Regions from separate parts of the Homo sapiens genome. Here regions 1, 2, 3 and 5 are each linked to region 4. The links come from fine-mapping of genetic effects on gene expression. A gene starts in region 4. Each other region holds a variant in brackets. All regions are shown on one strand. Distances are between the middles of the regions.

Region 1 (5,104 bases), 120 kb after region 4:
GGCCCTTAACCTTAAATTCTTAAGTGTTTATTCCAGGCCCTGTGGCAGGTACATTATGAGCATAATCTTATTAAATCCTCATAACAACCCTGTCAATTTGGGATTATTATCCATTTCTTTTAGGGATGAGAAAACTAAGGCTCACAACAATCAAGGGACCAACCCACGGTCCCCTAGCTCTGAAGTGGGGATCCAACCCAGGTGTGGCTGAATAGAGACCACCGAGATTTAAAAATAGGAATAATAATTATTATTTTTATCAGTATTACTATTTGTGAGGTTCTTACTACGGGCCAAGACTTGTGCAAAGCAAGTAAGATGCATGATCTTATTTAAACCTTTACACAGTTTGTTTTTGTTTTTGTTTTTGTTTTATGAGATAGCATCTCGCTCTATCACCCAGGCTGAAGTGCAGTGGCTCAGTCATAGCTCACTGCAGCCTTGACCTCCCAGGCTCAATCGATCCTCCCACCTCAGCCTCTCAACTAGCCAGGACCACAGACATGCACCACAATGTGTGGCACATTTTCTTATACTTCGTAGACATGGGGGTCTTGCTATTTTGCCCAGACTGGTCTCAAGCTCCTGGGCTCAAGTGATCCTTCTGCTTCAGCCTCTGACGTAGCTGGGACCACAGGCATGCACCACCATGCCTGGCTAATTTTTTTTTAAATTTTTATTTTGTAGAGATGGAGTTTCACTATGTTACTCAGGGTGGTCTCAAACTCCTGGCCTCAGGTGACCCCCCTCTGCCTCCGCCTCCCAAAGTGCTGAGATGACAGGTGTGAGCCATCATTCCCAGGCTAAACTTCAGCACATTATTATTAACATATTTTTGGCCAGGCGTGGTGGCTCAAGACTGTAATCCCAACACTTTGGAAGGCTGAGGAAGGTGGATCACCTGAGGTCAGGAGTTCGAGACCAGCCTGGCCAACATGCTGAAACCCATCTCTACTAAAAATACAAAAATCAGCTGGCGTGGTAGCACATGCCTGTAATCCCAGCTACTCTGGAGGCTGAGGCAGGAGAATCACTTGAACCCAGGAGGCAGAGGTTGCAGTGAGCTGAGATCACACCACTGCACTCCAGCCTGGGTGACAGAGCGAGACCCCATCTCAAAAACTAAAACTAAAAATAAATAACATATTTTTGCACATGGAGTAACCATGGCTTGGACAGATGAAGAAGGCGCTCTCAGATGTCCTCCCAGGTGGGAGTCACTAGACACCCCTGTGCTCCTAACCACTGGGTCTTCTTTCCTCTCTCCACCAACTAGGGGTGGCCGCCATGCAGGGGCTAAACCACACCTCCGTGTCTGAATTCATCCTCGTTGGCTTCTCTGCCTTCCCCCACCTCCAGCTGATGCTCTTCCTGCTGTTCCTGCTGATGTACCTGTTCACGCTGCTGGGCAACCTGCTCATCATGGCCACTGTCTGGAGCGAGCGCAGCCTCCACATGCCCATGTACCTCTTCCTGTGTGCCCTCTCCATCACCGAGATCCTCTACACCGTGGCCATCATCCCGCGCATGCTGGCCGACCTGCTGTCCACCCAGCGCTCCATCGCCTTCCTGGCCTGTGCCAGTCAGATGTTCTTCTCCTTCAGCTTCGGCTTCACCCACTCCTTCCTGCTCACTGTCATGGGCTACGACCGCTACGTGGCCATCTGCCACCCCCTGCGTTACAACGTGCTCATGAGCCTGCGGGGCTGCACCTGCCGGGTGGGCTGCTCCTGGGCTGGTGGCTTGGTCATGGGGATGGTGGTGACCTCGGCCATTTTCCACCTCGCCTTCTGTGGACACAAGGAGATCCACCATTTCTTCTGCCACGTGCCACCTCTGTTGAAGTTGGCCTGTGGAGATGATGTGCTGGTGGTGGCCAAAGGCGTGGGCTTGGTGTGTATCACGGCCCTGCTGGGCTGTTTTCTCCTCATCCTCCTCTCCTATGCCTTCATCGTGGCCGCCATCTTGAAGATCCCTTCTGCTGAAGGTCGGAACAAGGCCTTCTCCACCTGTGCCTCTCACCTCACTGTGGTGGTCGTGCACTATGGCTTTGCCTCCGTCATTTACCTGAAGCCCAAAGGTCCCCAGTCTCCGGAAGGAGACACCTTGATGGGCATCACCTACACGGTCCTCACACCCTTCCTCAGCCCCATCATCTTCAGCCTCAGGAACAAGGAGCTGAAGGTCGCCATGAAGAAGACTTGCTTCACCAAACTCTTTCCACAGAACTGCTGAAATGGCTGACTTTCTCTCAAGAGATGTAGCGAATGGGAACACTTTAGTCTTCCTCCTTTATTTCTTTTCCTTTCCTCCCTCCCTCCTTTCCTCCCTCCCTCCCTTCCTTCCTTCTTTCCTTCCTCCCTCCCTCC[T/C]TTCCTCCCTCCTTCTCTGACCTACAGTCCACCCTCCCTCCCCCCTCCTCCTTGCCTTCCTTCCATCCTTCCTCCCTCCCTCCCTCCCCCTTCCTTCTTCTCTGCCTACTTCCCTCTTTCCCTTCTCTCTGTCTCTTTCTGTTTCTATACCTCTCTGTCTCTGTCACTCTCTTTCTCCCTCCTTGTTCTTTTGTTTTTGTTTTTGTTTTTGTTTTGACTGAGTCTCGTTCTGTCACCCAGGTTGGAGTGCGTTGGCACAATCTCGGCTCACTGCAACCTCCACCTCCTGGGTTCAAGCGATTCTCCTGCCTCAGCCTCCCGACTAGCTGGGATTACAGGCACACACCACCATGCCTGGCTAATTTTTGTATTTGTAGTAGAGACGGGGTTTCACCATGTTGGCCAGGCTGGTCTCGAACTCCTGACCTCAGGCATTATGCCCACCTCAGCCTCCCAAAGTGCTGGGATCACAGGCGTGAGTCACCACACCCAGCCCTGACTTTTTTACTGTAGACATCCCAGTGGTTTCTTATTGGGGTTTTGATTTGCATTTCCCCAATGACTAATGACAGGCTTTAGGTGCTTAACACATGTGAGTTATTTTACTTCACAGGGAAGATAGGATTACTAACTCCATTTTGTTTGTTCGTTAGTTGGTTGGTTTTATACACGGTCTTGCTCTGTTGCCCAGGCTGGAGTGCAGTAGTCCAATCATGGCTAAGTGCAGCGTCAACTTCTGGGCTCAAGCAATTCTCCCACCTCAGCCTCCAGAGAAGCTAGCACTGCAGATGCATGCCACCACAAGGGTAACTTTGTATTTTTTGTAGCGACAGGATCTCACGATGTTGCCCAGGCTAGTCTTGAACTCCTGGCCTCAAGCAATCCTGCCATCTCGGCCTCCCCAAATGCTGGGATTACAGGCATGAGCCGTGACACCGGCCAAGTTCTATTCTGAAGATGAGGAAGCTAAGTTATGAAGAGATTAAGTTAATTAGCCAAAGGTCTTGTCACTGACATGGAAAAGCTAGAATTGAACCTATTCTTTAAATTAGAGCTGGGGATAAGAAGTACACATTTCTCAGGGCCTGTGAAGAGGGGAAGTCAGTCTGTTCCAGAAAGGGAGGAAGAGCTGGATTGAAAACAAGAGACACATTCTAGCTAGCACCAATGGAGTGAGCCCAGAACTAGAAATATGCTGTCTCTATGGGTTTAGGAGGAATCACCCAGTGTCAGAGAATTAGGGATACACCTTATGAGTTTGGCCAAACTGGCTGTAGTATTTCTGTGTTTTTTAGTAGACGTGTTAATACGAAAGAGTGTGTCACATTCAAATATTAAATTGGGCCAGGCACAGTGCCTCACACCTGTAATTCCAAAATTTGGGGAGGCCGTGACAGGAGGATCACTGGAGTCCAGGAGTTCAAGACCAGCCTGGGCAACAAAGTGAAACCTTATCTCTACAAAAAAATTAAAAAATTAGCTAGACATGGCTGCATGTGCCTGTAGTACCAGCTACTCAAGAGGCTGAGGTGGGAGGATCACTTGAGCCCAGGAGGTTGAGGCTGCAGTGAGCAGTAATTGTGCCACTGCCCTCCAGCCTGAGTGACAGAGTGAGACCTTGTCCCAAAAAATTAAATTAAATTAAATTAAACGCTTTGCAAAAAAAAAAAACTACCCATTAAATCCGGGTTCCTGGGTTATATTAGAAGTTCCGGCCGGGTGCAGTGGCTCATGCCTATAATCCCAGCACTTTGGGAGGCTGAGGTGGGTGGATCACGAGGTCAGGAGTTTGAGACCAGCCTGACCAACATAGTGAAACCCCGTCTCTACTAAAAATACAAAAAATTACCCGGGCGTGGTGGCACATGCCTGTAATCCCAGCTACTCAGGAGGCTGAGGCAGGAGAATTGCTTGAATCCAGGAGGCGAAGGTTGCAGTGAGCCGAGATTGGGCCATGGCACTCTAGCCTGGGTGACAGAGCGAGACTCTGTCTCAAAAAAACAATAAAAAAAAGAAGAAGAAGTTCTAGGGCACTTAACTACTAATATCTGGGGGGGCATTCTTTGCCTCCCCTATAAAATGTAAAGGGATCCCAAATGTTAAACTTCCACCCCCATCACCTCGAGTTGTCATGGAAAAGAGAATGTTATACCCTGTTTATACCCCACGTGTCCTGGGGTGTAGCTAGTGCTTTCTAGCTGATCATGATTCTGAAGATACCTTGGAATAGGCTGGGAAACAGGTAAAAATCAGACTGTGTGAGTTTGAAAGAGTGCAGGAAAGGTGGCTTCTGGGTTATATCCAAGATGTGTCATTGTGGTTCCCCGTGGTGATCAGAAAAGCGAGCCAGCTTGCTGTAGTTTGGTTGACCAATGTCCATGCATTCTGAAATTAAAATAAGCTTTGTGATTACTCCTTCACTTTATTTAGTAGTAGTCATTGTGTAAATTTGAAACAACCGGAGAAGTTGGGCTTAGTGTTGTTTTTATACATGGCATATTCTAGACCCTGAGGGCCAGGTCAGGGTGAGGTGAGGGAGACACCTCACCTCCTTTAAACATTATTTAAAATGTTGACATTTTGTTCACCGTGGATTTTTTTTGCATTCATTTTGGTTTTTTAAAATATTGCATTAGGCCGGGTGTGGTGGCTCACTCCTGTAATCCCAGCACTTTGGGAAGCCGAGGCAGGTGGATCATTTGAAGTCAGGAGTTCGACACCAGCCTGGCCAACAT
Region 2 (5,104 bases), 150 kb after region 4:
GCCCAGACCAATGTCCTGGAGAGTTTCCCTAATGTTTTATTTTAGTAGTTTCATAGTTTGGGGTCTTAGATTTAAGTCTTTAATCCATTTTGACTTTATTTTTTTATGTGGTGAGAGATAGGGGTCTAGTTTCATTCTTCTGTACATGGATATCTGGTTTTCCCAGGACCATTTACTGAAGACAGTGTCATTTCCCCAGTGTATGTTCTTGGCATCTTTGTCTTGGAGGAATTTAGATACACTGGAGGGACCCGCAGAAATAAGATATGGCAGCACGTATACAAATTAAAGCCTTAAAATTTTTGGAGAGATTTTTCAAAATTTGGAATGATATAAATATAATGAAGAACTTTGAACTTAGCCATTTCTAACTTATCTGTTCCAGGAGCACATAAACAGACTAATCGGGATTATAAAACATGCTCACACTAAGTAACTAATATGCAGACATTTATGGAGCGACAACTGTGTGCCTGGCACCAAGGTACAAAGATAAATGAAGCTGGAAACCTTCTCCTGTGGAGTACACAGTGGCAGGAAAGACACAAATATTAAAGTTAAAATTATGTCACGGTGGCAGGGCACGGTGGCTCACGCCTGTAATCCCAGCACTTTGGGAGGCCGAGGCGGATGGATCATGAGGTCCGGAGTTCGAGACCAGCCTGGCCAACATGGTGAAACCCCGTTTCTACTAAAAATACAAAAATTAGCTGGGCGCGGTGGCAGGCACCTGTAATCCCAGCTACCTGGGAGGCTGAGGCAGGAGAATCGCTTGAACCCAGGAGGCAGAGGTTGCAGTGAGCCAAGATCGCACCACTGCACTCTAGCCTGGGTGATAGAGTTAGACTTCATCTCAAAAAAAAAAAAAATATGTCATGGTGTGATCGATGTTGAGCTAGCAAGGAGGGGTGGCAGGACCAGGAAAAGTCCATCAAAATTGGTGATGGGAGTCATAAGGATGAGTAGACTTCAGCCAGTCAGAAGATCAGAGAAAAGGTGCTACAAGTAGACAGAACAGAGTCTTGAAGATGGCTTCAGAGGGATATGGTGGAACGAGCCTGAATGCAGTCTAGTAAGCCAGGGACATGAGGCAAGGAGAGGACAAAGATGGAAGAGGGTCTGGAGAGGTGGCCAAGGACAGCTTAAGGAGACTTGGAGGGTGGTCGAAGGAGCTGTGGCTTCCTCTTGATGTCTGGAGAGTCACCAGAGGGTTTAAATCCTTGTAATCCCAGCACTTTGGGAGGCCGAGGCAGGAGGATCACTTGAGGCCAGGAGTTCAAGACCAGTCTGGGAAACATAATGAGACCCCCCCATCTCTACCAACAATTATTTACAAATTAAAAATAAATAAATAAATCCTATGAGTGACATGTTCAGCCACCTGAGGGAGGATGGGATCGGGGGAGGTGATGACTGAACAGCTTCAACCAACTCAGAACAGCCAGTTGTCAACTTCTGAAAATTGTTGCAACCTGGTTGTTAAACACAGCTCTGATTAAAAGTAAACTGTATGAAATTACAGTGAAATAAATTAAGGGAATCTAGGAGTGAGCTCTGTCTTCTCACTTCTGTCATGATTGAAAGGTTCATCTATGACTCTTAGCGTTATTTTCAGCACCTACCAATTGATGGCAGGTCTTCTGTAAATACAGATTATAAGGAGATTGATTCTTCTATCTGAAAGTCTCAGAAGTTCTTAGAGACAAATAATTTTCTTAAAGATTAAGCAGGTGAGAAAGTAATGAACTCTAGAAGCTTAAAGCTGTAATAACTGCTTAAAATGTATCACTTCTTAATTATTTCATATATATTTTACCATTGTCTGTGCTTTTGAGTTTATGACTATTGCACGTGTACTGTGGAAATACTCCATATACTAGTAGCACATCAGCAGGCTTCAACCTTTTTGGCACCAGGGACCAGTTTCATGGAAGATAATTTTTCCACGGACTGGGGTTGGGGGATGGTTTTGGGATGATTCAGGCACATGACATTTATTG[T/A]TGTGCACTTTATTTCTATTATTATTACATTGTAATATATAATGAGGTAATTATACAACTCACCATCATGTAGAATCAGTGGAAGCCCTGAGCTTGTTTTCCTGCAACTGGACTGTCCCATCTGAGGGTGATGGGAGACAGTAATAGATCATCAGGCATGAGATTCCCATAAAGAGCACCCAACCCAGATTCCTCGTGTGCACAGTTCACAATAGGGTTCACGCTCCTATAGGAATCTAATACCAGCATGCCACCATTGACCCATCTGACAGGAGGCGGAGCTCAAGTGGTAATGCTCACCCCACCCCACCCCTTCCGCCACTCTCCTGCTGTGTGGCCCAGATCTAACAGCCACAGACCGCTACCAGCTGGGCGTTTTGGGGAACCCCTGTCTTATGGGACACAACAAAACCAGTGCTGAAGAAGAAAAATAACCTTGGCGTCTTCTTCAGTTGTGAGACTATTGTGACCGTGTCTGTGGGTGACTGAGCTCTTATGTAGCTGCAGGGATTGGAGTAACTGAGGTCACTCACACTCATGACCTGGGTTCTGCCACTGCTTCCTCCACCATCTCACATCACAGCCGCTTGGGATCTCTGTTGACTCTTCGAAAGCATGGGTGGATGTGGATTCACAAAGACATTTTCCAGCCAGAAGGCTCAGAGAGGGGACTTAAACTGGAAAACTTAGGCCTAGAAATGGCCACAAGACTGGCACTGAAACGGTATGCCAGTGCTCAAGGATTAGGATGCCCCCAAGGAGGTATCACTTGGGGAAAACCGTTGATGATTATCTCTATGGAATTACAGAAATGCCAAATATATAACCCAAGAAACTTGGTGTGCACTCAATGACACAGCATGGGAGGGAGACCTCTTACTTCTATCCAGATGTTTGTGATGTATGGGTATCTTTGGCCACCGGGTGCTCCTACCATCAAAAAGAGCTTCAAGACAGGCTTGTTGGGGCCTTGAGTCCTTTTACCCTAGTCTTTCAGCTCTTGCTAAGAAGAATCCCAGCTAAGTGTGGTGGCTCACATCTCTAAACCCAGCACTTTGGGAGGCCAAGGCAGGCGGATCACTTGAGGCCAGGAGTTTGAGACCAGCCTGGCCAACATGGTGAAACACCGTCTCTACCATAAATACAAAAAATAGCCGGCCGTGGTGACACGCGCTTGTAATCCCAGCTATTTGGGAGGCTGAGGAAGGAGAATCACTTGAACCTGGGAGGCAAAGGCTGCAGTGAGCTGAGATCGTGCCACTGCACTCCAGCCTGGATGACAAGAGTGAGACCTTGCCACACACACACACACACACACACACACACAAAACTGAAATGATTGTAGGTGCTCCCACAGTGCCTACACACATTGGGTTTCTCTCCAGAATGAGATCTTCCATGTATTCGAAATGAACTGGGAGAGTCAAAGGTTTTCCTACCCACCTTGCATTTGTAAGGTCCATCTCCACTATGCATTTTCACATCTTTGAAGGTTTGGGGGGGAAGTGAATGTTTTCTGAAATTCCTAACATTCATAGAGGTTTTCTCCACTGTGAGGCCTTTCGTGTATGTGAAAGGAGTGGTGAAAACGAAAGGCATTCCCACATGGCTTACATGTATATGCCTTCTGTCTACATTCCTGATATTCACAGGGTTTGCGTCCAAGGCGATCTCTGATGTGCCTTTCAGTGGATGGATAGCCCACGCCGACCTCTCCACACACATGGCTTTCAGGTGGCTTTACTCCAGGAGGCGTTTTCTTATTCAGATTATGACCTGGAATCTGGCTGAAGGCTTCTCCACATTGACTACCTTCTTTATTTTCACAGGGTCTCTCTACCATATGATTTCTGTACAAAATAAGTACATTATTAAGTATTTTTATAAATAATTTATTTGTTATTGATGGGTATTGGATTTATGTGGAGTTTTTTGGAGACAGGGTCTCACTCACTCTGTTGCCAGGCTGGAGTGCAGTGGTGCGATCTCAGCTCACTGCAACCTCCGCCTCCCAGGTTCAAGCGATTCTCCTGCCTCAGCCTCCTAAGTAGCTGGGATTACAGGCACCCGCCACCACACCTGGCTAATTTTTGTATTTTTAGTAGATTCGGGGTTTCACCATGTTGGCCAGGCTGGTCTCAAACTCCTGACCTCAAGTGATCCACCTGCCTCAACCTCCTGGATTTATGTTTTTAACATCATCAGTGGAAGCATAGGTAGGATTTCTAACCTGTTTCCACTGTTTGGCCATGAATGGATTGAATGGTCTGCAGGAGCGCCCAACTACAGCTGCTATGAAAATAGAAATATTAACATGGGGTTTCTTCTTCTTTTTTTTTTAAGACAGGGTCTAGCTCTGTCACCCAGGCTGGAGTGCAATGGCACAATCTTGGCTCACTGCAACCTCTACCTCCCAGGCTCAAGCAATCCTCCCACCTCAGCCTCCCAAGTAAGGGGGACTTATAGGTGTGTGCTGGCACACCTAGCTAATTTTTTTTTTTTTTTGGTAGAGAATAGATCTCCTTATGTTGCCCAGGCTGGTCTCAAGCTCCTGACCTCAAGCAATCCACCCTTCTTGGCTTCCCAAAGTGCTGGGATTATAGGTGTGAGCCACTGCACCTAGCCTATATGTGGTTTCATAATAGTGTTTCCATGTAAACTTTTTTTGCAAACATATATATGTCTCATTTAAGTATATATTTATAGAGAAAGTTTTCTAAGAATAAACAGATTGAAACTGGGCTTGTTTTTAGAATTTCCTGACAGTCTACGATTCTCTTGATGGACACTGCTTTCTCTTGAAAATTACCTTAAATTTCTCCCAGGATTTTGGTACAGATCTTCAATGTTCTTATCTCCCCATTTCTTTCCTAAAATGCAGGTAGAGAAAAATCATTATGAATTATTACAAAATTATTTTAAAATTATTGAATTCTAGGTTCATGGTACACCATGACCATGGTACACTGGACTGCAATGGCACAATCTTGGCTCACTGCCACTTCTACCTCCCAGGCTCAAGCAATCCTCCCACCTCAGCCTCCCAAGTTAGGGGGGGCTACAAGTGTGTGCCAGCACACCAGCTAATTTTTTTGCCTATATAT
Region 3 (5,104 bases), 31 kb before region 4:
AGGTGGTACTGAGTAGGCACTTTTTATGTAGCGCAGGCAAGAGTAGGAACTCTTCATGTAGAGCAAGCAGCACTCAGTAGGCACCCTTTATGTACAGAAGGCAGCCCACAGTAGGTACACTTTATGGAGCACAGGCAACACTCGAGCAGGCAGCACTCAATAGACCCTCTTTATGTAGATCAGGAAACACTCAGTAGGAAGTCACCATATAGAGCAGGTGGTATCAGTAGGCACTGTTTATGTAGAGCACTTGGCACTCAGTAGGCATGTGTTATGTAGACAGCAACTGGTGCTCAGTGGGCACTCTTCATATACAGGGGGTGGCACTCAATAGGCACTCACTATGTAGAGCAGGTGGCACACAGTAGGCACTCTATGAGGAATATCAGGAACTGAGTATACAGGGTTAATGTAGAGCACCTGGCACACAGTAGGCACACTTTATGGAAAGCACTTGGCACAGAGTAGACAGGATTTAGCACCTGGCACACAGTAGCTGCCCTTCATTTAGAGTATTGGCACACAGTAGAAGTACTTTCCATGCAGCCTTTGTGCAGAGTAGAGACTGGCACACAGCAGCTCAAGTGCTAGTTGCCACCCTTTCCCTTCACTCCTTTTTGGGGCTCCCTCCTCTTAGGAGCCCTCATTGTCCCCCGCTAAGGCCCTCATCGAACATCCCATTTCCCAGATGGGAAGACTGCACCCAGGAGGGGCAGTACTGACCAAAGTCAGAGCAAGGATGAGGCAGAATGAGGACTCCATTCATGGTTCCCTGGCTCTGCCCTTCCCCTGCCTGGACCCCATCCGTTCCCTCTCATCCTAACCCTCCACGTCCCCGCTCTGTCCTCCTATACTGAGTCCGGCCTCCAGATTTGCTTTTCCAGCTGAGCTCTTAATCTCCAGAATCTGACCCAGGTAATCCTCAGTGGGGCTGGATTCTTTGTTCCCGTTCCTAGCAGTCAGGTCTCCAACAGGGCCCTGGACTGCCTGGAGGCAAGACTTGAACTCCATCCAGCAGCAGGGGGATAGAGGCTTGTCTCTTCCAGGTTGCCTGATTCAGCATCCAGAAGTGGTACACGGTGTCCTACCGGCCCAGGGTTAGAGAGGAGCACAGGAGATGATCTGGAACAAGGCTTGGCCTGGCCTGGCTCGCTTGACACCTGAACTCTCAAGTTCATGCTTTTATCTGCCACACACTCAGTAGGTGCTCTTTAAGAGCAGGTGTCACACAGTGGAAACTCTATCTGACCCCTCTCGGCTTACTCTCCACCTTATGTGGGAGGTGCTGAGACCTGAGGATCCAGTGCCTGTGCTGTGTCACCCTGAGCTGGTTCCTCTGCATCCAGCTGGTCTCCCACACCCAGGTTTTGGCCAGCTGCCCAGACATGGGAGCGGCACCCAGGCTGTGGGGATTGGCTGGCCCAGCCCAGCCCAGCCTAGCCTCCCACAGCCTTCCCTACATCAGGGGCCAGGGGAAAAAACCTCCCAGAAGAAGGGGAGAGGAGGTTGTGTGGGACAAGGTGCTCCTGACAGAAGGTGCCAGGGTGGGGGTGGTGGGCCTGGGGCATCCTAGCCTGTGATGGAGATGGGCACTGGGCAAGGGATTGGGCGCACACATAGGGGAGCCCCAGCCTTCCCACATTCTCCATTGCTGCCCAAGGCCCAGGCAGCTCCTGGTTGCTGGCTTGGAGGATGAGTGGTTTTCTAACTGAAACCAAGCCCCTGGCAACGTCCTAATGATTCAGGCTGGGCCTTTCTGGACTTTAATCAGTTTCTCTGTCTTTCTCAATCTAAGTGCTTACCGGGTAACTGGAGGCCACTTGGTTGCTGGTTTTGGCTGGGCCTTTCTGGACTTTACCCCTCAGCCCCTGTTTATCCATCCCTGTTTACTCTTACTGTTCTATCTCCAGCACTGCCCGTCTCTGCCTCTCTCCACTGTCCCTGGAGCTCCCTGGGCCCTTCCCTGGGCCTCAGGACCTCACTCACCACCCCATCTGCCCTGCAGGATGCCACAGCTGAGCCTGTCCTCGCTGGGCCTTTGGCCAATGGCAGCATCCCCGTGGCTGCTCCTGCTGCTGGTTGGGGCCTCCTGGCTCCTGGCCCGCATCCTGGCCTGGACCTATACCTTCTATGACAACTGCTGCCGCCTCCGGTGTTTCCCGCAACCCCCGAAACGGAATTGGTTCTTGGGTCACCTGGGCCTGGTGAGTGTGGCAGCAGGACGGGTCTGGGGTCTCAGGGTGGATGGACTTCCTGAGGGGTAAGAATGAGGCTCAGGTGAGAGGGGGTGGGCTGGGGTCTGGGGTGGCAGAGAAGCAGGGGAGGCGTCTTACTCATTCCTCTGCTTACTCATTTCTGTGAGGTGCCAACCCAAGCCCTTCTCACCTCCCTGTTCTCCCACTCTTGGCCTGTGTTGAATCCTTTTCCTGCCTGTCTTTCCACATTAATGCACCTCTGCGGGGCTCTTGGGCAGGGGGTTGGGTGCACAGAAAGGTGAACCCCTGGCGTTCCCACATTCTCCATTGCTGGACTCGAGGCCTCCTGTACCCACTGTTCAGGGTCCTCTCCCTACCTGGCCTATTTCCTCTTATGAGGGTATAGGTGGGCCAGAGGAGAGGTGTGGGCTGTCTCTCACCTCCACCACATCCGGAGGCACCTTCCTCTTATCTTGTTCCTCCCCAGTAAGATGTCCCAATGGGGTCCTGTTGCCAAACCCACA[T/C]AAAAGTTGGCCACTCACTTCCCCTTTCAGAAGCCTTCCCTGACCTTTCTCCTCCCCCAGACCTTGCCCTCTGACTTAGACCTGCTCTCCCCTTTGCGGAACGTGGTCTCAATCTGCTCATTGCAAATGGCAGGATTGATGGGTGTGTCCACAGGTGAAGTGGGAGGGTGCACAGGATGCACTAGCACAGAGCCTGGTGCAGAAGCTTCTCCCAGGTGGGAGCCACTGTCATGATGGACAGTTAGAGTCACCTCTGCTCCCCTAGTGACTGCTGAGAAGGGAAGGTCCCCTGTGTGCAGAACCTTCTCCATGGGAGGAACTGGAACCTGTGTGGCTGGTGGAGGAACCAGCCAGGGCATGAAGGGATGTGGGGACCAGCCTTAGGGACATGTCCTGAGTCCACACTGCTCCCCACAAACCTCCCCTGTGAGGACCTCCTCATATGCCCACCTCTGGGCTGAAATGACTCCCAGAACAAGGAAATTTTTCCTCTCAAGCTAAGTGGGCCTCTGTGAGTGGACAGTGTGTCTTTTCCTTCTGCCTTGGGATGCGCTCTTGGGACTTGGGGGTGGCCCCAAGAGAGATAGAGCAGGAGGAATGTAGACAGATAGATAGGTAATAGGATAGATGGATGGATGGATGCACAGATAGGGTGAATAGATGGCTGGCTGGCTGGATAAGTAGGTGGGTAGATAGACAGATAGATAGATAGATAACAGGATAGATGGATGGATGGACAGATGGATGCATGGATAAGATGGATGGATGGATGGATGGATGGATGGATGGATGGATAATACATACATAAAGTAGTAGATAAGATGGATACATTAGGTGGATAGATAGGTAGAGTGGATATGTAGGATGGATAGATTAGATGGATGGATAGATAGCTAGATGATTGATAGATAATAGGATAAATGGATGAGTGGATGAATGTACAGATAAGATGGATGGATGGATGGATGGATGGGCAGATAGATATATAGATAGAAAAGTTAGATAGGATGAATAGATTAGATAGATAAATGAATAGATAGATAGGTAGGTAGATAGATAATAGGCTAGATGGATGAATGGATGCACAGATAGGATAGATGAATGGATAGATAGACAGATATATAAGATAGAATGGATGGATTAGATAGATGGATAGATACATAGAAACATAGGTAGATAGATAGATTAGATAGATAGATAGATAGACAGATAGATACATACATACATACATATATAGATACATAGATAGGTAGATATGTAGAGATATATATAGGTAAATAGATAGATAGATAGATAGATAGATAGATAGATAGATAGATAGATAGATAGACAGACAGGCAGACAGACAGATAGATAGATAGAAGAGGGAGTTTATTTCGGGAATTGGCTCACAGGATTATAGAAGCTGAGATGCGTCATGGACTGCTGTCTGCAGGCTGGATAAACAGACACTGGTTGTGTAACTGAGTCCAAAGGCCTGAGACGGTGGAGTTCTGGTGTCCAAGGGCAGGAGAAGATGGATGTGCCAGCCCCACAACAGAGCAAATTAGCCTTTCCTCTGCATTTTTGTGCTACCTGGGCTCTCAACAGATTGAATGAGCTCTGCCCACACTGGGGAGGGTGATTCTTCCTTCCTCAGTTTACCAAATTGAATGCCAGTCTCTTCTGGAAACACCCTCACAGACGGATGATCAACTATCTGGGCATCCTTTAGCCCAGTCAAGTGGACACCTAGAATTAACCATGACAGGAGGTGACGGCCCCTGCCTTGCTTGCAGGTCACCCCCACGGAGCAGGGCATGAGGGTCCTGACTCAGCTGGTGGCCACCTACCCCCAGGGCTTTAAGGTCTGGATGGGCCCCATCTTCCCCGTCATCCGTTTTTGCCACCCCAACATCATCCGGTCTGTCATCAACGCCTCAGGTACCACCTGGAATACTTGGTGGTGGGTGCTATGGTGCATTTGAGGCCTGCAAGTCCCTCTATCCCCAAGCCGTGTGTGGCCCCTGCAGTACTCTGGTCTCTCCTTTCCTTCTCTCTCAGCCATCTTCATCTTTCTTTCATGTATTCACTAATTCCCATCTCAGCATCTCCTCTCTCCATTGCCATCTGACCCCCTGTCCTGGTGTTCTGGGCTGCCCTGGGGCCCCAAGAGACCTCAACCCAAGGCCCTGTCCTGGAGGAACCCCCAAGCTTAAGGAGGTGGATGTGGACAGAGACATCCCCAACTTCATGGGGTCAAGAAAGGGCCAGAGGGAGATGGATGACAGCCCAGAGAAGAGCAAGTTCTCTGCTGGGGCAGGCTGGAAGCCTTCCTGGAGGAAGAGTTACTGGAGCCATGTCTGGAACAATGAGTAGGGATGTTTGAAAGGAGAGTGCAGGGTG
Region 4 (5,104 bases):
GCCCTGGATCTGTTGGGAGGAGAATCCTGCATGTGGGAGAAGGAGCCAGGTGCTGATCCAAGGGCCTCAAGATATTTCCCCTTTGGGGCTATCACACTGCCTGAGATTACTCCATTATAAATGTCCCTATATTAATATGGCATTGACACTAAAGAATGGGGGTGGAGCAGCATGGCAGAGGGAACGGATTTGGACTTGAGGGTCTCATAGTCTTGAGTTCCTATGAGCTCTGCAACTTGGACTAGAGGCCTGCCCTCTCTGAGCCTCAGTTTGCTTTTGTGTTAAATGGACACCTTCTCTCCTCTGGATGCCATCACTCAGGTCTCTTCAACAATGCCCAGGGTTCTGGCCTAGGGAGCTGTTGGGAGGGTGGTGGGACAGCTTTGGGCACTGTGATGCAGGTGAGCATCTGATACAAGCAGGTGCACGTTATATAGAGCACCTGGCACATAGTAGGTGCACCTTATGTAGAGCACCTGGCACACAGTAGGTGTACTTTATGTGGCGTACCTAGCACATAGTAGGTACACTTTATGCGGCATACCTGGCACACAGTAGGTGCTCTTTATGTAGCATATCTGGCACACAATAAGGCACACTTTATATAGTGTACCTGGCACACAGTATGTGTGCTTTATGTCAAGTATGTTGCACCGAGTAGTTTTACTTTATGTAGGGGACCTAACACACGGGAGAAGCATTTTATGTGGAACATCTGGCACACAGTAGGTGTGCTTTATTTAGAGCACCTGGCACACAGCAAGCATGGTTTATATAAAGGGCCAGGGACTCAAGATACAGGATTTGTGAAGGGCTCCCAGCATACAGTAGACAGTATTTATGTGGAGCTCCTGGCACACAGTAGGTGCACTATATGTAGAATAGCCAGCACACAGTAGACAAGATTTATGTAGATTACTTGATGCAGAGTAGGTGCGCTTTCTGTGGGTCACCAGGTACGTAGTACACATGCTCAATGTGGAGCACCTGACACACAGTAGGTATGCTTTATATACAGCACATGGCACAGAGTAGGCACGCTTTATATGAAGTACTCTGCATAAAGTAAGCTTACATTATGTACAGCATGCTGCACACAGTAGGTGAGCTTTATGTGGCATACCTGGCACATAGTAGACAGAATTTATGTACAGTATCTGATACACAGTAAGTGCACTTTATATAGTGAAACTGGCACACAGTAGGTGCACACAGTAGTGCTTTCCGTACAGTCTTTCGCATGGAGTAGAGACAGGCACACAGCAGCTCAAGTGCTAGTTGTCATCCCCTTCCCTTCAGTCCCTCTTTTTGGAGCTCCCTTTTCTTAGGAGCCTTCCTCCGTCGCCCTCTAAGGCCTCATCTGACATCCCATTTCCCAGATGGGAAGCCTGAGCCCAGGATGGCCACACTGCCCACAGTCAGAGAAAGGACAGGGCAGAACAAGGACTCCACTCGGGATCCCCTTGCTCTGCCCTCCCCTGCCTGGACCCCGTCAGCTCAAGGCCCCTCTCAGCCTCATCCCCTGTGCCTCCGCTCTGTCCTCCTAAGCTGAGCCCAGCTTCTAGGTTTGCTCCTCCAGCTGGGCTCTTTATCCCCAGAATCTGACGAAGGTAATCCTCAGCGGGGTTGGGGCTGGATTCTTTCTTCCTGCTTCAAGCAGTCAGGCCTCAACTCAGGCCCTGGGCTGCCAGGAGGCAGGACTTGAACTCTTGCCAGGCTGTGAAGCCAGAGATGAGAGGCTTCTGTCTCTGAATCTCCTAAGTCTGCACCAAGATGTAGTGCCTGACATCCTCCCCGCCCATGTTTGGAGAGGAGCCCAGATGATCTGGGACAAGGGTTGGCCTGGCCCAGCTCAGCTGGCTGCCAACTGTCATGATAAGTATATGCTTTTATCTGAACACCCTTGTCTTGGAAGGGCAGGGTGGAGGTAAACTTGGGGTTCAGAGTCCCCTCTAACCACCCTCCAACTTCCCCTGCAAACTCCCAAGAAGGTACTGAGACCTGAGAATTCAGTGCTCGTGCTGGGGCACCCTGAGCTGCACCCAGTGGGCCCAACCCCAGGTTTTGGCTGGCTGCCCAGGCACGGAAGACACACCCAGGCTGTGGGGATTGGCTGCCTCAGCCCAGCCCAGCCCAGCCCCGCCTCCTACGGCCTTCCCTAGATCAGGGGCCAGGGCCAAAGACCTCCCAGCAGAAGAGGAGAAGAGGTTGTGTGGGACAAGCTGCTCCCGACAGAAGGTACCAGGCTGGGGGTGGCAGGGCTGGAAGGTCCTGGCCTGGGATGAAGAGGGGACTGCCTAAGGCTGGGGTGGCTCCAAGATGCTGGCATGGGAAACTGGGGGTTTCCTGGTAACTGGACTCCTAGCAAACTCCCAAGGATTCAGGTGGGGCCCTTCTGGACTCTAATCGGCCCATCTCTTTCCCTTTCTGTGTGGTTACCAGGTTACTGGAGGCCACTTAGTTGTTGGTTTTGGTTGGGACTTTCTGGACTTCAGATCTCAGCCCTCGTTTACTCACCCCTGAGCCCTCCCTGCCCTGCCCCCAGCAGTTCCTGACTTCGCCCCTATACACTGTCCCCGGAGCTCTTCCCTGGGCCTCAGGTCCTCACCCTGCATCCCCTCTGCCCTGCAGGATGTCGCTGCTGAGCCTGCCCTGGCTGGGCCTCAGACCGGTGGCAACGTCCCCATGGCTACTCCTGCTGCTGGTTGTGGGCTCCTGGCTACTCGCCCGCATCCTGGCTTGGACCTATGCCTTCTATAACAACTGCCGCCGGCTCCAGTGTTTCCCACAGCCCCCAAAACGGAACTGGTTTTGGGGTCACCTGGGCCTGGTGAGTGTGACAGCAAAATGTGTCTGGGGTCTCAGGGTGGATGGACTTCCAGAGGAGCAGGAATGGGGCTCAGTGAGCTAGGTATTGATGGTGGCTGGGGTCTGCGACCCCAGAGAAGCAAGAGAGATGGCTCACTCATTCCTCTGCTAACTCACTCATTCCTCTACCCACTCACTCCTCTACCCACTCACTCACTCCTCTACCCACTCACTCACTCCTCTACCCACTCACTCATTCCTCTACCCACTCACTCATTCCTCTACCCACTCACTCCTCTACCCACTCACTCACTCCTCTACCCACTCACTCACTCCTCTCCTCACTCACTCATTCCTCTCCTCACTCACTCATTCCTCTACCCACTCACTCACTCCTTTCCTCACTCACTCACTCCTCTCCTCACTCACTCATTCCTCTCCTCACTCACTCATTCCTCTCCTCACTCACTCATTCCTCTACCCACTCACTCACTCCTCTACCCACTCACTCAATCCTCTACCCACTCACTCACTCCTCTACCCACTCACACATTGCCCTCCTCACTCACTCATTCCTCTCCTCACTCACTCATTCCCCTCCTCACTCATTCCTCTCCTCACTCACTCATTCCTCTACCCACTCACTCATTCCTCTCCTCACTCACTCATTCCTCTACCCACTCACTCATTCCTCTCCTCACTCACTCATTCCTCTCCTCACTCGCGCATTCCTCTCATTCGCGCATTCCTCTCATTCACTCATTCCTCTCCTCACTCACTCATTCCTCTCCTCACTCTTATTCGTCTGCTCACTCACTCATTCCTCTGCTCACTCATTCCTCTCCTCATTCACTCCTTCCCCTCATCACTCACTCATTCCTCTGCCCACTCACTCATTCCTCTACCCATTCACTTATTCCTCTATCCACTCACTTTTTGCTCTCCCCACTCACTCATTCCTCTCCTCACTCACTCATTCCTCTCCTCATTCACTGATTCCTCTACCCACCGACTCATTCCTTTCCTCATTCATTCATTCCTCTGCAGTTCCATGCCAAACCTTTCTCACCTCCCTGTCCTCCCACCTCAGCCTGCTTGGATCCTTTTCCTGCCTGTCTTCCCTACCGTAGTGCCCCTCCCAGAGGCTCCTGTATGGTTGTGGGGTGCACAGAGCAGGGCTCTCCTGGCATTCCCACCTTCTCCACTGCTGGACTTGAAGCCTTCTGAGCCCCGATAGACAGGCTGCTCCCTGCATGGCCCATTTGCTTGTATCTGCCCATCTCTGGGCTGCTGCTTTCCCGCAGGAATTATCTCTGACTTCCTTCCCCACGGAGGGACACAGCTGGACCAGAAGAGAAGTGCAGGCAGTCTCCCACACCCTCTCCTTCCAGGGACAATGTGCTCTTCCCCAGTAAGATGTCCCAGTGAGCCCTGTAGCCCAACCTGGATATAATTTGGCCACTCCCTTCCCCTTTCAGAAGCCGTCCTTGGTACTCCCAAACCTTTCCCTCCGACTGGGACCGGCCCTCCCCTTTGGGGGATGTGGCCTCTGTCTGCTCACTTACAAAAGGCAGGATTGATCGGTGTGTCCACAGGTGCACAGGAGGCACTAGCACAGAACCTGGCATAAGTGAGGCTCTCCTAGGTGGGAGCTGCCATCCTGATGGACATTAGAGTCACCTCTGCTCCCCTGGAGGCTGCTGAGAATGGAGGGCCCTCAGGACGCAGGCCCTTTGTCTGTGGGAGGAACCAGTGCCCATGTGGACCAACCAGGACACAAAAGGATATGGCAACCAGCTCTAGGGATATGTCCTGAGGCCACACTGCTGCCCACAAACCTCCTTCCATGGGGACCTTCCCATATAGCAATCCCCAGATTGAAATCAATCCAGGATGAGAAAACACATCCTCTTGAGCAGACAGCTTGTCTTCTCTCTCTGCTTTGGTATTTACCCTTGGATCTTGGGGACAGCTCCAAGAGAGAAGGAGCAGAAGTCAGCAGAAACCCACTGCAGCTGCTGAGAATCCAGACACGCTGCTCACTGCAGAGGCTGCACCACATCCGGTGGCTGTGGGGGGACTTGCTGTGGCTTCATCTAGGGAGGTGCATTAGTCAGGGTTCTCCCTAGAAACGGAATCTCCTTAGAAACAGATAGGGTGTTTCTTCTTATCTCTAATGCATGTATGTATGGAGACAGAAAGAGATAGAGAGATAAGAATTTATTATGGGAATTGGATAATGTGATGATGGAGGCCAAGAAGTCCCATGATATATCATCTGCAAGCCAGAAACCAG
Region 5 (5,104 bases), 87 kb after region 4:
TTTTCTTATTTCCTTTTTCTCCTTGAGGATGTGACTTTAATGTTTATAGTTTATTTTAACCTATGGCTCTGGGTGCTTTCAGGGGTCCAATGATGTGATCTATCCTCAAGACTCCCAGCAGTGGGTAACAGCACCAGCTCTGATGGGGGTGGCAGAGGGGTGACGTAGATTCTGTGATATTGTTTGGTTATAAATAGGCTTAATTTGGCTTTCTCAAATGCCAGTTGTAGTAGTAATGAACTGGTCATGTGGACAGACTGAGAACCTCCTGATTAACCAAGTTGATGCAGGCAATGGTGATAACCGAGGTCACACACAAGTTTTCTCCTTCCTGGTTGCTGTTATGTGCCTGCAGAGGTTATAATGGACTCTGTCAATTGGCCTACAGCCAGGATGTGAAGCTTGCAAAAGAGCACTAGCTGCAGTGGTAGCAGTGGGATTTGTGCTTGTCTTTTGTAATCTCGTTTGTCTATTTCACCTTTGTTGTCTGTGCTGTTGAGTTCTTATCAAAAAAGTTCTTGCCCATATCAATGGCCTGAAGAATTTCCCCAATGTTTTCTTCAAGTAATTCATAGCTTCAGGTCTTGCATTTAAGTCTTTAATCCATTTTGATTTGATTTTTGAATACAATAAGAGATAAGAGTTCAGTTTCATTATTCTGCATATGGACATCCAGTTTTCTCACCACCATTTACTGAAGAGATTGTCTTTTCCCCATTGAATATTCTTGGCACCACTGATCTTTGACAAAGGTACAAAGAAAATGCAATGGTCCTGTACAAGAAAATATAATGTATTTGGAGATCAGAATCAAGGACAAGGCGACTGAGTGTAACAAGGGAGGGATATCGGCTGGAGAGATTTGACAAGTCAGCAGGGTGCAGAGATGCAGAATTCCTTAAGCTATGAACAGAGGTCAGCTTTACTAGTGGGACATTATTTTAAGACATTAACTGAGGATTCTCTCCTTCTCCTACCACCCTGCCACATTTTAGGTGCTTTTACCACTCTTGGAAAAAATTGTCTCCTAAATGTACAGTCCTCTAAAAATGAAGAGATTATTCAAGAAGCACAGATATTGGAATTTTTGCCTATGAGTTCCAAAACAGTATTTAAAGTCATGGTAGAAAAAAACTATCTTGAAAGGCAACATGCTTTATTAACCAGACTTTCTCAGAGAGCAGGTAATAATGGCCGTATTTATTGAGCATTCAATGTGCACCAGGCACAGTTCTGAGTCTCTCATATTTTGTCCTCAGGAAAACCCTGACAAAGGTAGCATTGTTGTCCCCATTATATGCTTGAGAAAACTGAAGAAAAGAGAGGAGAATTAACTTGCCCAAGCCACACAGCAAAGCTGAGACTTGAGCCCAAGTAGTCTGGTTCCAGATGTCATGCCTTTGGGATGGTGTTTTGCTTCCAGTCATCTGGCTTTGGATCTCAAGGGTCAAACAGGATGGCCCTGACTGCACCCCACCCCAACATGGGCAGGTGATGGGAATGAAGGAGGAACCTAGAGGTGAAAGGGTGGGGATGTGCTGAACCCCTGACATGTGTGAGGGTGCCTGGCACATAGCAGAGGAGAGTAGGGGGAGGATTCAGGTAGTATCTGTTGGCCAGGCTGCCTGGGCAGAGTCAGAGGGTTCAAAAGAGGAAAAAAAATGGAGCTGTCTGAAGGTAGGGGAAGGGGGTTCACAAAAGCGATCAACTTGAAGGGGGAGACGTAGGGTGGGATGCTGGCAAGAAAGGGAGCTAAGAATTCCTAAAAGCCTACCAGGATAGAAGCTGCACCCTTCTATCCCTGTGTTCTGAGCTGGCTAAGGACCTCGGTCTTGGGACACTCCCAAAGCATGGAGGCCCTATGATCAGCCAAAGAGGCAGTCAGGTTCTTGGGTTCAGTGACAACACCCCACCTAACCCGCCCAGGTTATGCCCCTTCCCTGACGCCTCCCAGTCCTCAAGAGCCCCCTGCTGGCTGTCAGTAGAGGCCCAGGCACAGTTTTATTCCGGAGAATCTGGAAAGGCAGGTGGATGGGTCAGAGGGTCACTGCAAGCCCGCGTTCAGGGGCTCCACTCGCAGCCAAAGTCCTCCTTCAGCGCGCATGATCAGCTCCGGCTTCCTGCGGGGCTCCGTGTGGTCCAGCAGGAAGCGGAAGCGCAGCAGCGTCAGCGCCAGGACCACCTTCATCTTCGCCATGGC[G/C]AACGCCTGCCCGATGCAGTTCCTGCGGGTGGGAGTGGGGACTGTGACTGCGCCCAGGATCCGCATTTGGGCCCCATCACGCCGGAAACCTGGCCCGGGATCCTCAACCGCACCCAGATCAGCCTGAGAGATAGAGAGGGGCTGAGCATGCGTGGGACCCCCCTGTGGGTTTGCATGTCCCCCAGAGCCTGGGCCAGACTCCAGCTCCCAGCTCAGACCAGCAGATGGAGGAGGGGATTCTGAGCACTCTGCGGACCCTCTAGGACCTACTCACCCCCATTCTATGGACATTTTCCCATAAACTGTGAAGGAATGGAGGGAAAGAGAACTGGAACTGGGACCATCTGCAAACTTCCCCCTTTTTCGACCCTCGCACCTATCACCCCATCCCCATACCAGACACAGGTGGCCCTTACCTGGGTCCCGCAGAGAAGGGAATAAAAGCCAGAGGTGACCTCTCCTTGCTGTTCTCTGAGTTGAAGCGGAAGGGGTTGTAGACCTGGAGGTAAGACCAAGAGGGCTGCTGGGTGGGGTCTCCCAGGTCCAGCAGCCTTGGAAAGACAGTTGTGTGTGTGTTGGGGCGAGGTGATGTTGGATTTTCCTGATCAAAACCCTGCCTCCTCCTCTAGGAACCTTGGAATTGACAAAGAGGGCAGGGGGTCGGGGGTGGATGGGAAAGGCAGCACCTCAGGATCCGGTCACACAGTTGGGTTGTGATGGATTCCTATAATGTTGATGATGCAGATAATGCCTGTGGGAGAGAAGGTGGCAGTCAGGACAAGGATCCCCCTGAAGGACCCCTCTTCCTACCCGGGGGGCTCCTCCCCATGAGGCTGTGAGCATCTTTGGGGATGACCCTACCATCTGGGAGCACAATGTCCCAGATGCGGTGGCGGGAGGTGTACGGAACAGGGGGATGCAACCGCAGGCTCTCCTTCACGCACATGGTCAGGAAGGGCAGCTGGGCCAGGTCGTACCTAAGGCAACACCCCAGCCCCAATCATTATCAAGGGAGCAAAGACACACTTCTCCAGCTTCTCTATTTCCAAGTGAGACCTTTTCTCCCTGTAACAAAATAAACTCCACATGGATCAAAAGTTTGAGAATTAGAAAAACAGAAAAAATTAGAAAAACAGAGAATTAGAAGTACCAGAGAAAATTTAGCCAAGTAGTTAAAAATATATACTCTGAGGAAAACACACCCAGAAGCCAGCTGAAAAAAGTTAACAAATTTGCATAAAAATAAATATTGTCTATGGCAAGAAAGCAAACTCAAATGCAAATGAATAAGAAACAAAATACCCAGATCCAATGTTTTGCTCTTATTTCGCATGGAACTAGAGATACCAGCAAGTGCAATTAGGCAAGGGAAAAACAAGAGAGTCATGCAATTTGAAATGTGGGAGTAAATGTATCATTTTGGCAGATAGTGATGTTATACTTAGAAAACACAGGAAGCTCCACTGGAAAACGTTTATAAACGTTTAAGATCCAGTAAAGGAGCTGAATTATCTGCTTAATCTTTCTTCTTTTGCCTTGGCTATTTAAAATTTTAATACCATCTAAACCTATCTGATTCAGAATTTGAAAACTGTAAAATATAATCCACTCCTATGGCCCAATGCCATCTACTTCTCCCCACATGTTGCCCAGGTTATTATTTTTTTAATGTGTCCTTCCTGTGCTAATATTTAGTATATTAAAAAAATTATATAGGAGCACACCATCTACTATACACTAGTATTCTGCATCTTTTTTTTTTTTGAGACAGAATCTTACTCTGTTGCCCAGGCTGGAGTGCAGTGGTGCAATCTCCGCTCACTGTAATCTCCACCTCCCAGGTTCAGGTGATTCTCCTGCCTCAATCTCCTGAGTAGTTGGGGCTTCAGGCCTGCACCACCATGCCTGGCTAATTTTTTTGATTTTTAGTAGAGATGGGATTCCACCACGTTGGCCAGGCTGGTCTTGAACCCCTGACCTCAGATGATCTGCCCACCACAGCCCACCTCAGCCTTCCGAAGTTCTGGGATTATAGCCATGACCCACCGTGCCTGGCCTATATCTTTTTCTCATTTAACAGTTTATCACTTTTTCTTAGCCCCTGGAACTTACGTCAAAATAAGGTTATCCCTACTCTGGAGCTATGAAATAATTTTCTCATGGTTTCATCTAGGGCTTTTAAGACTCTTTTAAAAAAATTTTATTAATCTGGACATTATCTTGTCATAAGACATGAGAACCAGCTTGTTGCCTTTTTTCCAGAAGGCTTTCCAGTTGTCCCAAGAGCTTTTACTTATTTTTTCTCTTGATACACAGCATCATCTTTAGCATGTACTGTGTTCATTGGGCACAGAATTTATATGTATAAATCATTAGTTTTTCATGTAGAAATAACCACCAACTGAAAAGATGATAATAAAAGATGCTAGTCATAATAATATAAAATACCTGGATTAAACTTAAAAAGAAACATGAAATCTCTGTATTTTATTATAAATTTCTCTCAATCCAAATAAAAGATACACTTTACCATGGCAACAAATGTATGTAAGGGGTGATTTAAAAAAAAGTCACTCTACCAGCTATTAAAACCTATTAAGAAGTTGCAGTAATAGCAATAGTCTGGCAATGCTGTAAGAACAGAAAAACAGACCTATTCAAAAGACTAGAAAGCTCAGAGACAGACAAGTGAATAAATGAAAACTTCCCATCTGCTGAAGGAAGCTCTACGAAACTCTGGGAAATAGATGGGTACTATGGCTGCAAAAGAAAATGTAGACGAACGAAACTCTGGGAAATAGATGGGTACTATGGCTGCAAAAGAAAATGTAGACGAATTTGACTTCATAAAAATTAACCAAAAGTACCCTCAAACAAGTCAAAAGGCAATCTTTTGCAACAAAA

The links.
Region 1: its variant is fine-mapped to the expression of CYP4F12 in whole blood (INTERVAL, PIP above 0.99).
Region 2: its variant is fine-mapped to the expression of CYP4F12 in whole blood (TOPMed, PIP above 0.99).
Region 3: its variant is fine-mapped to the expression of CYP4F12 in whole blood (TOPMed, PIP above 0.99).
Region 5: its variant is fine-mapped to the expression of CYP4F12 in esophagus muscle (GTEx, PIP above 0.99). The same link has a PIP of 0.9 or more in atrial appendage, gastroesophageal junction, lung, sigmoid colon, subcutaneous fat and tibial artery.

What each region holds. Positions count from the first base shown.
Region 1 is chr19:15,792,762-15,797,865 of GRCh38, forward strand. It overlaps OR10H5 (olfactory receptor family 10 subfamily H member 5), which reads left to right. Exons shown (of 2, transcript NM_001004466.2): 2 at 1,277-5,104. The coding sequence starts at 1,288. The coding sequence ends at 2,235. Among named protein-coding and RNA genes, the nearest start is that of OR10H5, 7.7 kb to the left of the region's middle. The variant T/C (reference allele first, on the strand shown) is at 2,370.
Region 2 is chr19:15,818,468-15,823,571 of GRCh38, forward strand. It overlaps the pseudogene ZNF861P. Among named protein-coding and RNA genes, the nearest start is that of OR10H1, 5.4 kb to the left of the region's middle. The variant T/A (reference allele first, on the strand shown) is at 2,001.
Region 3 is chr19:15,639,410-15,644,513 of GRCh38, forward strand. CYP4F3 (cytochrome P450 family 4 subfamily F member 3) reads left to right here and starts at 1,488. Exons shown (of 13, transcript NM_000896.3): 1 at 1,488-1,536; 2 at 2,006-2,204. The coding sequence starts at 2,007. The variant T/C (reference allele first, on the strand shown) is at 2,720.
Region 4 is chr19:15,670,898-15,676,001 of GRCh38, forward strand. CYP4F12 (cytochrome P450 family 4 subfamily F member 12) reads left to right here and starts at 2,190. Exons shown (of 13, transcript NM_023944.4): 1 at 2,190-2,238; 2 at 2,632-2,830. The coding sequence starts at 2,633.
Region 5 is chr19:15,758,199-15,763,302 of GRCh38, forward strand. It overlaps the pseudogene CYP4F24P. Among named protein-coding and RNA genes, the nearest start is that of OR10H3, 23 kb to the left of the region's middle. The variant G/C (reference allele first, on the strand shown) is at 2,201.